2 linked regions of the Homo sapiens genome follow. The protein of the gene in region 1 purifies or fractionates together with the protein of each later gene. This does not show direct contact. Each region holds a gene or a part of one and is shown on either strand. Other genes may lie near its edges.

Region 1 (4,085 bases):
ATTTCTTTCTCCTTCCTTTTTAAATTTTTTTTTAAAGCATCCAGAGATGCTCAGTGTATACTCTGTTGCTTAATTCTATAATTTCCAGAGAAAAGCTGTAGCTTGACTCAAACAGTGGGACCCTGAAAATTTGTTCTTTTTTAAAATTTTTTCTTGAGATGGAACCTTGCTCTGTTACCCAGGCTGGAGTACAGTGGTGTGATCTTGGCACACTGCAGCCTCCACCTCCCAGGTTCAAGCGATTCTCCTGCCTCACTCTCCTGAGTAGCTGGGACTATAGGTGTGCGCCACCATGCCCGGCTAAGTGTTTGTATTTCTAGTAGAGATGGGGTTTTGCCATATTGCCCAGCTGATCTCGAACTCCTGGCCTCAAGTGATCCACCTGCCTCAGCCTCCCAAAGTGCTGGGATTACAGGCGGAAGCCACCATACCCGGCCAAAGATTTGTTCTTGAAGTGTGACTAGGTGACTGCCTATTCACCTGAGTTATGGAGCCATGTTCCAAATCTTGTGCCTTCCTTCAGGTGTGTTTGGAAAGCACAAATGTGTACCTCAGTAGTTTCTTCTCTTGGTGGCAACTTGGAATGGGTGGGATACTCCCCGCCCCAATTCCCTCCCCTGCCCCTGCCCCGGGAGGTATCTTTGGCCATCACCGAGGACACAGGAAGGCACTCTGGGAGATGCCTGTCTCATGATGGGCTTCCTTATTAACTGTGCCTGTGTCTCCTTCGCGAGGCTCATACCTTCTTTGGTTTTCATGAGAAACCAAAAATATTGCATTCACTGTTTTTTTTCTCAATCGGAGTGTGATCAACTGCTTACGGGCTCTCAGGCTGACTCCCTGAGCATGGGCATGGCAGCACCTGGCAGCATCCCTGTGGTACGAGCCCAGCCTGTGGTGCTGGGGATGAAGGAGAAACTGAGAACTCTGTGTTGTCTTTCTCAGACAAGCCTTCATGTATTGTATTTTCTTTAAAGCCTGTTCTTTAGGGTCCAGGTCAAAATATGTACCAATTTCCTGGCAATAGGTCCCTCTTTAAAACAGTGAATTTTTTTTGGTATTTTATTGTGAAAAATTTCAAACGTACAAAAAAGACAAAAGAATTTATACTGTGAGCACCTATAGCTGGTACCTGGATTCTACAATTGGATTTTGCTCTGTTTCCATGAATCTGTATTGTTATTTTGTTGGATTACAAAGTAATTTTCAAACATCATACACATAAGCACATATATCATTAAGTAGAGTTTAATATTTGTTATGGTTCCTGGTTTTTTTTTTTTTTTTTGAGGTAAAATTTACATTCTGTGAAAGGCACAAATCCAAGCGTCCTATCTGATGAGTTTTAACAAATACACCCAGTTGTGTCACTCAAGCCGTTATCTAGATGTAGATTGTTCCCAGCACCTGAATTCCCTCGTGCCCTACCCAATGGGTCCCTTCTCACATCTTCCAGCTCCACCAGAGGCAGTCACTTTTCTTTTTTTTAAAATGATGTTTGAAAATTACTTTGTAATCCATCAAAATAACAACAGGTTTCCAGGACAGTTTAGCCTGTTCTAGAATTTAACATAAATACTTGTATACTCCTCCTGTGTAAAGCCCTTTGGCTTGGTGTGTTTTTGATATTCATCGATGTTGCTCCGTGTATCAGGAGTTTGCTCCTTTTTAACAGTGGACTTTTGAGCGATCATTGGAAGTACCCAGAGCATTGACATAGGAGTCCTCCTTGCCAAATGGAAAGACTGCCATTGACCTTACCAGCCAACCAAAGAGGGGCAGGACATTTGGAAAATCAAGTGGATTCTCCAGCTGGGCTGTTAGAAAAGAACTCACTTCTGTGGAGAATCACTGGATTTTATAGGCTTAGCTCTAGAAAGCATCATTTTGTCATCTTCTGAAATGACAATAATTATCCAATTACATCTCTCCTTTCTGTCATTTTACACCCACAGTTGAAGATTCCTGTCTCTGGATCCAAATCAGAGGGCCTTCTCTACGTCCACTCATCCAGAGGTGGCCCCTTTCAGAGGTATCCTGGGAAGGTGACGGCAGTGGGGGAGCGGGAGGAAGACTTCCTGATGAAAGCAACCCCAACTCCGTTTTCATTTGTTGTTAAATTACTGTGGGCATAGGAAGAATTATTTTTCAAGCTTGAAGCTGAAAGCTTCGTGGCCTGGGCAGCAAGCCAGTACTGCGGCTCTTAGCTGAGTCCAGTTTATCCATACAGTCTACTGAATTGCCCTCTCCTTATGCCGTTGAATTTGTAAAACTTTCCAGTTATAGTGATCTGGGTCTATCATAATTTGATGCTATGTTACAGCTTCTCACTTGACTGCCTCAATTGTTATAAATGAATAAAGGGCATGGACTCTTGTTCCAGAATTTATTCATCACATTCTTTGCATAAGCTCTCCACCCCTTAATTGGCTTTGCTTGTCTGGTTGCCAATAGCTACATCCACTCACTTCCCCCACGGGAAGCCTCTCTCATAGATGTTTGCTGTTTAGCCAGGCTGTATTTTAATTCCCAAGGACAAAAGGAGCAGGAGGCCCCACCTAGCTCACCCTGGGCTCACTGACCTCTGAGCCTGGGATTAGTGTACAAGCTGGCTGGATTCCATGCCAGGAACTGAAGGTCACTGTGAATTAGGAAATGAGAAATAAACTGCTCCTTCTTCCTGATGTCCCTTCCATTCGCCTGTCAGTCATTGTTAAGCCTGCCTTGAAGTCGAAGCTGGTTAAATAATGAGAGCCCATGGTAGAATGTTAAAAATTGTGTTGACACAGCACTCGCACAAAATAATGTTTAAAAAAATTTAAGGCATTATTCAAAACAACTGCTTTCCGCGCCCCTTTTTTTGACTACGGCTGTTGCCTCAGCCTTCATAGATTAGAGATACTATACTTTTGGTTTCTCTCAGGTGGCACCTTGACGAGGTCTTTTTAGAGCTCAAGGATGGTCAGCAGATTCCTGTGTTCAAGCTCAGTGGGGAAAACGGTGATGAAGTGAAAAAGGAGTAGAGACGACCCAGAAGACCCAGCTTGCTTCTAGTCCATCCTTCCCTCATCTCTACCATATGGCCACTGGGGTGGTGGCCCATCTCAGTGACAGACACTCCTGCAACCCAGTTTTCCAGCCACCAGTGGGATGATGGTATGTGCCAGCACATGGTAATTTTGGTGTAATTCTAACTTGGGCACAACAAATGCTATTTGTCATTTTTAAACTGAATCCGAAAGAAACTCCTATTATAAATTTAAGATAATGTAATGTATTTGAAAGTGCTTTGTATAAAAAAGCACATGATAAAAGGAATCAGAATTAATAAAATGTTTGTTGATCTTTGCTAGTTCTCATTTCTTTCCTTTCTCTTCCTCTTCCTTTCCCCTGGAATTTTCAGTCCTCATTACAAAGCCTGAAGCTTAGTAGCACTGAAGGGATTTTTTCTAAATTATTGACCTGAGAATGATGAGGAAGACCACTGGTTTTTCACTCTACCTTGAATTCATGTTGTTAAGTAGCTTGTGGACATTCTCTATCACTTTGGAATATTTTGTTTGCTTTGCTTTTATTTATTTCTATTTCAGACACCAACCATCTGCCCAGTTGAAGATTTGCAAAATAATTGTTTTTATTCCAAACATTTTGAAAGCTTAGAAAATTTATATGTGTACATATACATATAAAGTTAACTTAGGAAAGTTAGTTTGAAGCTAACAGCATCTGGCTGGGTGTGGTGGCCCATGCCTGTAATCCCAGCAATTTGGGAGGCCAAGGCAGGCGGATCACCTGAGGTCAGGAGTTTGAGACCAGCCTGGCCAACATGGTGAAACCTCGTCTCTACTGAAAATACAAAAAATTAGCCAGGCGTGGTGGCGGGCGCCTGTAATCCCAGCTACCTGGGAGGCTGAGGTGGGAGAATTGCTTGAATCCAGGAGGCAGAGGCTGCAGTGAGCCAAGATTTCATCACTGCACTCCAGCCTGGGCAACAAGAGCAAAACTCTGTCTCAGAAAAAAAAAAAAAAAAAAAAAAAAGGAAAGAAAAAGAAGGGAAAGGGAAGGAAAGGAAAAAGAAAGCTAAT
Region 2 (3,818 bases), on another chromosome or scaffold:
GAATGATGTTTTTCTTTTTTTTTTTATTATACTTTAAGTTTTAGGGTACACGTGCACAACGTGCAGGTTAGTTACATATGTATACATGTGCCATGTTGGTGTGCTGCACCCAGTAACTCGCCATTTAACATTAGGTATACCTCCTAATGCTATCTGTCCCCCCCTCCCCCCACCCCACAACAGGCCCCAGTGTGTGATGTTCCCTTTCCTGTGATGTGTTCTCATTGTCTAGAACCATTTTGAATTGAGGCATTTGATGAAAAAGTCTCTGAGGAGAGTACAGACCAGTGAATCCTAATCCTTTTTGGATTACAGACCATACTGAGAATTTGAATAACTCAGGAACCTTCTCAAGAAATGGACCCATGTGCACACAGGTCAGGCTTGCTGGCGAGTTCAGAGTCCACAGAGCTCTCAGGTAGGTCAGAAGGCTTCAAATGAGAACACATTGGACCATTTTTCTTACTTCCCTTCCCTTCCTTCCATTCCCTTCCCTCCCTCCCTCCCTCCCTCCCTCCCTCCCTTCCTTCTCTCTCTCTCTCTCTTTCTTTCTTGACAGAGAGTCTCGCTCTGTCACCCAGGCTGGAGTGCAGTGGAGCAATCTCGGCTCACTGCAACGTCCGCCTCCCAGGTTCAAGCTATTCTCTGGCCTCAGCCTCCCAAGTAGCTGCAATTACAGGCATCTGCTACCATGCCCGGCTACTTTTTTTGTATTTTTAGTAGTGATGGGGTTTTGCCATCTTGGCCAGGCTGGTCTCGAACTCCTGACCTCAAGTGATCCACCTGCCTTGGCCTCCCAAAGCGCTGGCAGGCGTGAGCCACCACACTGAGCCTGGACCATTTTTCTTATCAACTCTAAATTCATCTTCATTGTCAGACCAGAAAACACTAGTTCTTTTGTTAAAAGCCTTTCTTTGGATTTAATTCTTAAATATTTCAGTGGTGCTCGTAAGTAAAAATTATCTTGGACTGCAAATGTAAAAATCTGCCCTGTGCTGTATCAATCAAGCTAGGATAACAGACACACACAAAGTCAGCTGAAAGGAAACATGTCTCCCGAGGGTGTACGACAGCCACGGAGTGTGCTAATAGATCCGTTATTTGAGTGATTACTGCTTTCTTATTCATTGGGAAATCTTGTTCTCTAAAATCATTAACTACCAGAAATTTGCTGTTTGAAGTCTGATCTGTAAGAAGGAAACATCCCACTTTTGTCTAGAAGATCTACGGCGCCCTGACACAGAAGCAGCCTTGATCTCCAACCCAGCTCCAGGATGTCAAATAACATTTCTCAACATGAACATGACACTCAATCTTTTAACTTCAAAGAAAGAAAACCCTGGTCCACTTTTCGATCCAGAGCTGACGACGACACCTATGCTTTGTACTGAGGTTGTCAAAACACCATTTCATTTAAATTTTACCTAAACTCCATTCTTCCCCTAAACTTCTAATAACTCTCTTTTTCTTTGTTGGTAAGATGCCCACAGTTCTCTGGTGTGTGGTCTTCCTGGTTATAAGCATTCACAAATCAGACTATACATTCATCCCTGGTGGTCTCAGGCTGATTGGGCTAGGATGGATGTTATATAAGGATACCAAAGGAAGAAGTGGACATTGCCCTTAACATTTTTGTGACAAATTAATAGATGTTTGCATGTCCTGTCACATCTCCAACTGCCTAAGACAACTCCATTTAGAGGTCCTACTGATGTTGCAGTCCCAACTTGTCCAGAACTTTGCTCCTCTCCAAACATGTTTCTCCTCTAATACCTATTTCAATGAACGCATCACATCTACCTAGACACTTACATCTCTTTTCCCTTCTTCACTGCCACAGCACAAACCCTCATCATTTCTCACTTGGGTTGCTGTAACAGCTCTTTCACTGGCTTCTCTATTTCTAGGCTCAACCATCCTTAATTCACCTGTCCCAGGCTGCCAGAGTATAATCTTTCTGAAACCCAAATTTGATCAGGTCACTTGCTTGTTTGAAGATCTTTCAAGGTATCCATATTGCCTTTAAGGTTTCTAAGACAAACGAGGCCACTGATGGCTTCATCCCTGCGCCCCTGTCCATCCTCTCTGAATTCACCAGCAGTCCCTGAACTGTTTGTCCTACAGAGCTACCCCATGCTCATTTCCTGCGCGTCTTGATTCCATGCCTTTGCATATTACCACATTCTGCCTGGAAAGCTCTCCTCCCTAGCCATCACCTTCTCTTTCAACCAACAGCCTAAACCCTCAACACACGGTCCTTTCTCTAAAAGGCTAATGAATCAACAAGGATTCATTGAGAAATACTGTATACACATATGCGAGTGGTCTCTAAACCACTGAATAAGACCCAGGACAGTAGTGTGAATGCCAAAATACTGGGATTTCTGAGACATTTCAAAGTTTTATAGAAAAAAGACAATATATGAATTTGATATTAAGATCAAAGATCTTGGATATCTGGTTGCTCTGTTTGTGGAACTTTGTTAGATGATGCTAGAATGATAGGCCTGATCCCTGCTCCTAAGTTAGGAACAATAGGAGCCTTTTATTTTATTTTATTTTTGAGACAGTCTTACTCTGTCACCCAAGCTGGAGTGCAGTGGCGTGATCTTGGCTCACTGCAACCTCTGCTTACCAGGTTCCAGTGATTCTCCTGACTCAGCCTCCCGAGTAGGTGGGACTACAGGCGCGTGCCACCGCGCCTGGCTAATTTTCGTATTTTTAGTAGAGATGGGGTTTCGCCATGTTGGCCAGGCTGGTCCCGACCTCCTGACCTCAGGTGATCCACCCGCCTTGGGAGTGGTGGCTCACGCCTATAATCCCAGAAGACTTTCAATAGGACCATTATACACATCATACTGATGAGTGCTATAAAACAGATATGTGAGTACGAGAGAGAACTAATTTGTTTTGGTAACAGCTACCATATTAGTTGTATGGCATATTTATTTTGTAATAAGCATGTATTTTTGGTGTTTTGGGATAGAATTACTCAATCTAAATCCCAATTTGGTGGTGCTATTTTTTATCTTTATTTCGTGGCTGTCACATCAGCTAAGTAAAAGATCCAAATTTTGAAATCATAGACATTCAAATCCTCTCTCTACTACTTTACTGGTTGGCTGGTCTAAGACAAATTATTTTACCTTTCTGAACCTTAGTTCCTATTGTATAAAGCAGATACAAAGTACCTCACAAGACTGAATGAAAATTAAAGGCAACAAAAACAAAGCATCTCATTCAGAATGCACTCAAAAGAGATTTCCATTTACTTGCCCTCCCGTGTGCCTCCCCACCCTTATGCACACATATCTCTGGAAAAACTTTTCAGCTTTTATTCTGTGGCAATTGAGTAGGACTTTGACAAGGTAATACTTGAAAAGAGAGCACAGGTGAACAGGGAGCAAAGAACCGATAGTGAAGGGCAGGCTGAGAAATAACTCAGTTATGAACTAAGAAAGAACAGTGGTGCAGAAGAAAATGGGTGCAAATGGGAAACGGGCTATCACTGTCAAATGCTGCAGAAGTCAATGGGAATAATTTACTATACTACCTGCTTCCCTTCTTTGTTACAGTCATCTACAACTTTGCAGGTCACCATCTGATATGGTTAGGCTTTGTGTCCCCACCCAAATCTCATCTTGAATTGTAATCCCCATAATCGCCACTTGTCAAGGGAGAGACCAGGTGAAGGTAACTGAATCACCGGGGTAGTTTCTCCCACGCTGTTCTTGTGACAGTAAGTGAGTTCTCATAAGATCAGATGGTTTTATAAGGGGCTCTTCCCCCTTTGTTTGGCACTTCTCCTTCCTGCCGCC

Evidence for each region.
Region 2: the proteins of COA1 (region 1) and COA6 purify together in Homo sapiens (affinity purification with western blotting, with the first as the bait; one study listed by BioGRID). This does not show direct contact.

The regions. Positions count from the first base shown.
Region 1 is NC_000007.14:43,638,520-43,642,604, reverse strand, and holds the end of COA1 (cytochrome c oxidase assembly factor 1 homolog), read left to right. Parts: intron 1-1,955; coding exon 1,956-2,032; intron 2,033-2,923; coding exon 2,924-3,023; 3' UTR 3,024-3,348; downstream 3,349-4,085. UniProt on the Homo sapiens protein: Component of the MITRAC (mitochondrial translation regulation assembly intermediate of cytochrome c oxidase complex) complex, that regulates cytochrome c oxidase assembly.
Region 2 is NC_000001.11:234,379,743-234,383,560, reverse strand, and holds part of COA6 (cytochrome c oxidase assembly factor 6 homolog), read right to left. Parts: intron 1-3,818. UniProt on the Homo sapiens protein: Involved in the maturation of the mitochondrial respiratory chain complex IV subunit MT-CO2/COX2. Thereby, may regulate early steps of complex IV assembly.